Regions from separate parts of the Homo sapiens genome. Here region 1 is linked to region 2. The links come from fine-mapping of genetic effects on gene expression. A gene starts in region 2. The other region holds a variant in brackets. All regions are shown on one strand. Distances are between the middles of the regions. Region 1 has its middle 49 kb from the start of RNF212. Region 2 holds the start of RNF212 (ring finger protein 212).

Evidence for each region.
Region 1: its variant is fine-mapped to the expression of RNF212 in whole blood (TOPMed, PIP 0.98).

What each region holds. Positions count from the first base shown.
Region 1 is chr4:1,062,745-1,065,653 of GRCh38, forward strand. It overlaps a transcript of RNF212 not described here. Among named protein-coding and RNA genes, the nearest start is that of RNF212, 49 kb to the right of the region's middle. The variant A/C (reference allele first, on the strand shown) is at 1,428.
Region 2 is chr4:1,112,122-1,115,030 of GRCh38, forward strand. It overlaps RNF212 (ring finger protein 212), which reads right to left and starts at 1,443. Exons shown (of 10, transcript NM_001131034.4): 1 at 1,235-1,443. The coding sequence starts at 1,343. It overlaps LOC124900647 (nascent polypeptide-associated complex subunit alpha, muscle-specific form-like), which reads left to right and starts at 1,518. Exons shown (of 3, transcript XM_047416477.1): 1 at 1,518-1,631. It overlaps LOC105374344 (a long non-coding RNA gene), which reads left to right and starts at 1,518. Exons shown (of 3, transcript NR_134676.1): 1 at 1,518-1,631.

The sequences.
Region 1 (2,909 bases), 49 kb before region 2:
GGTTGGAAAGGAAAAAGTAAAACAACCTCCACTTGCCGATGACATGATTTGCCATATACAGAAAACCCTAGAGAATCCACAAAAAAAATCCCCAGAGCTCATAAACTCAGTAGATTGCAGGATACAAGATCCATCTATAAAAATCAGTTGTATTTCTACATACTAGCAATGAAAACCTGAAAATAAAAGTTACAAAACAATTCTATTTATAGTAGCACCAAAATAACAAAATACTTAGGAATAAATTTTACCAATGAAGTGCAAGATTTCTTCACTGAAAACTGCAAAATACCGTTGAAAGAAATCAAAGACCTAAATAAAGGTAAAGCTATGTCCAACATTCATGGATTGGAAGATGCAGTGTTAGTATTAGATGGCAATACCCCCTACATTGATGTACAAGGTGAATTAAAACTCTACCGAGATTTCAACCTGCTTTGTCAGCAGAAATGGGAAAGTTGATCCTAAAATTCATATGGAAATGCAAGGAACTCAAAATATGCAAAACAATCTCAAAAAAGAACAAAGTTGGAAAACTCACACTTCATAATTTCAAAAGTTACTATAAAGCTTTAGTAAGTGAAAGACAAAAAGAAAAATACTTAAAGCAGCAAGAGAAGAGCAACTCATCACCTACAGGACAATACGATTAACAGCTGACTTCTCATCAGAAATAATGGAAATGGCTGGGTACGGTGGCTCATGCCTGTAATCCCAGCACTTTGGGAGGCCGAGGTGGGCAGATCACCTGAGGTCAGGAGTTTGAGACCAGCCTGGCCAACATGGTGAAACCCCATCTCTACAAAACTAGCCAGGTGTGGTGGTGCGCACCTGTAATCCCAGCTCGTCAGGAGGCTGAGGCAGGAGAATCACTTGAACCCAGAGGTGGAGGTTGCAGTGAGATCACACCATTGCACTCCAGCTTGGGCAACAGAGTGAGACTCAGTCTCAAAAAAAAAAAAAAAAAGAAAAAAGAAAAATTAGCCAGGTGTGGTGGTGCATGCCTACAGTCCCAGATACTCAGGAGGCTGAGGTGGGAGGATTGATTGAGCCCAGGAGGTCCAGGCTGCAGTGAGCCATGGTCAAGACACTGCACTCCAGCCTGGGTGGCAGAGACCCAGTCTCAAAAAAAAAAAAATGAAAAAAACCAATATTAATAATAATGGAAGCCAGAAGACAGAGGAATGACATATATACCAAGTGCTAAAAAGTCAACCAAGAAAATGTATCTTCAGTGAAATTATCCTTCAAAATGAAGACAAAGACATTCAAATATGGAAAAAAAAAATGAAGAGAACTGACTTCTAGCCAATCTTCCCTGCAAGAAAAAACTGGAAATGGTTAATATGTTGTGAATGATGGAATAAAAGATTTTTTTCCTCTTAAGGTCTTTAAGAAACATAAGTTTAATTCAGGAAATAATGACA[A/C]CACCATATTGTTAGATTTATAACACATAGATCCCATATATATGTACATAAATACATATGACAAAGCAGGTGGGAGGAAGCGGAGCTATATGGAGCAATGTGGTTACGTTCCACTGGAATTCAGTCGGTGTTCACCTCAGTGAGTGTTCACTGTGGTGAGTTCAAGATGCATGTTGTAATCTCTAGAGGAATCACTGAAATAATAAAGCACACAGATAAAGTATCAACAGGAGAACTAAAACGTGTATTAGTCTGCTTGGGCTTCTGTAATAAAATACCACAGACTGGGTGGCTTACACAACAGAAGTTTATTTCTCGCAGTTCTGGAGACTGGCAAGTCCATCAAGATGCTGGCTGATGGGGGTCCTGGCTTGCAGACAGCAGCCTTCTCACTCTGTCTTCATACGGCCTCTTTTGTGTGTGTGCAGAGTTAGTAAGCAAGCTCCCTGGTGTCTCTTTTGTTTTTTGAAAATTTATGATGATACAGTTTCCTACCTTAACCATTTTCAGTGTACAGTTCACTGGTATTAAATACATTCCTGATGCTGTGCAACCATCACACCACCCATCTCTATAACTGTTTTCATTTTGTGAAACTGAAATTTTGTGAAACTCCCATTAAACGAGAGCTTCCCACCCCTCCATCCCACAGCCGCTGGCAGCCACCATCCTACTTTCCGTCTCTACGATCTTGACTACTTCACACACATGGACTCACACAGCATTTGTGTTTCTGCGACTGGCTTATGCACTTAGCATAGCGTCCTCAATGTTCATCCACGCGGTAGCGTGTGCCAGAGTTTCCTTCCATTTTAAGGCTGAATCATAGCCCACTGTACGGAGACACACATTGTGCCTATCCATTCATCTGATGGATACTTAGATGGCTCCCATGTTTTAGACACTGTGAATAATACTGCTACGATCTTGGGTATACAAGCATCTCTTAGAGACCCTGCTTTCAATCCTTTTGAGTACTGAATTGAAATGCAGCATCATCTGGGAATTGTGTTTTTAAGTTTTGGAGGAAAGGCCACACTGTTTTCCACAGCAGCCACACCATTTCACATTCTCACCAACAGTGCACATGCTTCCAATTCCTCCGCGTCCTTAACAACACTTGTTATTTTGGGTTTTTAAAAATGATTACAATAAACATTTATTTAAAGGAAAACATCTGCAGACCAAATAATTCTGAAGTTTGTTTCAGGTTTAACCATCTTCATAAAAATACTTTGAGGAAAGCTGCATCCACAGACTTCAACTATGTGATTACTTCTTTGTCCATTCTCCTCTCTCGTTTTCTTTTTTCTTGAGACAGGGTCTCACTCTGTCAACCAGTCTGGGGTGCAGTGGTATGATCACTGCTCACTGCAGCCTTGACCTCCCAGGTTCAGGCAATTCTCCCACCTCAGCATCCTGAGAAGCTGGGACCACAGGTTTACGCCACCAGCCTGGATAATTTTTTGTAGAGAGGGGGTT
Region 2 (2,909 bases):
ACTTGAGCCTGGGAGGCGGAGGCTGCAGTAAACCGAGATCCCGCCACCGAACTCCAGCCTGGGCGACAAAGCTGAGCTCTGCCTTGAAAGAGGCAAAGAGAAGGAAGGGAGAAAAAGGAAGAAAGATGGGGAGCCACAGAAAGCGGCTTTGCTGTAGGGCTGGTTGTAGGGCTGCATTCACTAAGGCTCCATGGGTCTAAGGCCAACTCCGAGGATGGAGGTCAGCACAGCTGGCGTCCCCTGGGGCTGGAGGGCTGTGAGCCACCGGCACCCAGCTGGCTGCTTTCACGGGGAAGTTCGCTTGGTAAAAGCTCACTGTGTTTTTGCTTTTGTTCTTGCATAAACATCAGTTCAACACAAAATTTTCACAGAAAGAAAAACGCCTCCCTGACAATGCGACTGTCCACTTGACACCAGGGCCCCGCGCTGCCCATGGAATAGGGCCAGAGTCCTCCACTGGCGTTAAGGTTGCCGCCTGCCCGCTTCTCCCCCAGGTCCTCCAGGCGGACCCGCAGCCTGCAAGCCAGAGCCCCCGACTGACAGGACTCGTGGCCCGACCCCTGTGTCCCCCTCATCTTGCATCCCGCTCCCCCCGGCGGCCCCTCCCCTCCACGGCCCCTTCCTGCCTGCGGACCCTCCCCCACGCCCTCCTCCCCTGGCGTCTCCCCTCCCCCCATCTCCTCGGTATCCCCCTTCCCCCCCAAGCCTTGACCCCCCACATCCCCCACCTTGCCCCCCTCCTCTGGCGTCCCCTTCCTCCCTGCAGCCCCCCACCACCTCCGGCGTCCCCTCTTTCCCCACCCTCCCGCAGCCCCTCACTCCCCCGCTCCCTCCCCACCGCTTCTCCAGTGTCCCCCTCTCCCCACGGGCCCCTCATCACGCCCGCGGCCCCCACTCCCCGGTGGCCCCTCCTCCGAATACCCCTACCTCCGCGGCCTCTCACCCCCCCATGCCCCCCCCGCTCCATGCGCCGTTTCTCCCCCTCGGCCCCCCACGCGCCCCCGCGGCCCCTCCACCCCAGGTCCCCCTCCCCTCAGAGTTCCCCTGCTCCTCGCGGCCTCTCCCCTGGCATCCCCCTCCCCCTGCCCCCTCCCCCTTCTCCACGCGCCCTCTCTCCTCCGCAGCCCCCCACGTGCCCCCATGGCCCTCCCACCCAAGTCCCCCATCCCCCGGAGTTCCCTGACCCCCTTGCCGCTCCCCTCCCCTCTCCAGCCTGCGTTCGGGAAGCCCTGACCTTTGCCGAGGCAGGCGTCGCAGTACACGTGCCCGCAGTTGGTGAGGCTGAAGCACGACGTCCTGTGGGGCGGCTGGAAGCAGCGATTACAGAACACCCAGTTGGCCATGCCAGGCGGGCGACCGCAGCGGCGAGGCCGGGCCCACGCGAAGCCCACGCAAGGTTGGGACCAGCCTCCCCGCGCAGGGCCCGAAGGCGGGCAGCTCTGCGCCTGCGCAAAGTCGACGGCAGCCCTGCGCCCGCGCACTGGAGCTCGCGCCCTCCCGCCAACCTCGCGGGTTCTCCCGCAGCACCTGGGAGGGCGCGTGTGACTCGTCTCCCAGGTCGTTTGGGCTGGAGTAGGCGGAGGAACGCACCGCGAGCACCAACGTCCCGCCCCTGTCTTGGCGGTCCTCAGGTGTTTTGTGGAAGCCGGGCCTGGGTGGCGGGCGCGGGGAATGGCGGCTGCGCTGAGGAGGCGTCGCGGCGCGACAGCAGTGGGGGAGGGGGAGGGGGAGCGCCGAGGGCGGGGGATGCGGGCCAGGCCCACCTTGAGGGCCGGGAGCTGGGCCGGAGGCCAGGGCGGCCAGGGTAGTGCGCTGGGCGAGGCAGGGGAGGAGTAGGGGAGAGTGGGCGTGGGGGCCCTGGGGGCCCGGGGAGCGGGATAGGAGGGAGGGAGGGATAAGTGGGTGTGGGAGTTGGGGTGGGAGCGGGAGTGGGGATGTGGGAGTTGGGGTGGGTGTGGGGGCGTGAGGCGGTGGGGGTGGGGTGTGATGAGGCGGTGGGGGTGGGGGGGGCAGTTGGGGGTGGGGGCCAGGCCGCGCTGCACGCTTTGGGACTAGTGTCCAGGTGGCCGCTGGCGCAGAGACCTCAGCACGGGAGGCCTGAGCCTGCTTCCCTCTGAAACGGAAGGCGTAGCTCGGGAAGGACCTCTGCTGCTTCCAGGTTCCAGCATGGGGAAGTGACTTTTTATAAAATTGTCCTCTGCGTGGTTTTGAGAGTTTCCACCCGCTGGGACGCTGCAAAGCTCGGATCGAGAGGCTCAGGCAAGTGCTTGTGCCGGGAGAGCGCAGGGTGAGCGCTCCCGGTAGCTACGGGCCAAGTGACCCCTGCGCCCCGAAAGATGTGAGTAAAATACAGCTGTTTCCAGGGCCTCGTATGAAAACCTTCTTAGTAATTTTATATTGATTACATGTTAACATGATATTTTTGATATATTAGGTTAAATATATATCAGTAGCGTTGATTTTACCCTTTCAAAAAATCCTTTTCAATGTGGAGACTAGAAAACTTAGAATTACGTATGGGCTGGGTGCGGTAGCTCACGCCTGTAATCCCAGCTACTCCGGAGGCTGAGGCAGGAGAATCGCTTGAACGAGGCGGAGGTTGCAGTGAGCCGAAATCACACCACTGCACTCCAGCCTGGGCAACAGAGTGAGACTTCGTCTCAACAACAACAACAGCAAATTAGAATTATGTATGTAGCCCACTTTTATTTCTGTTAGACAGTGCTGATCTCTACCAAGTTTAAAATAGCAAGACCAGCAACGTGGCAAAACCCCGTCTCTACAAAAAATACAAAAATTAGCTGGGTGTGGTGGTGGGCCCCTGGGGTCCCAGCTACTCGGGAGGCTGAGGTGGGAGGATTGCTTGGGCCCTGGAGATCGAGCCTGTGGTGAGCCTGACGGCACCTGTG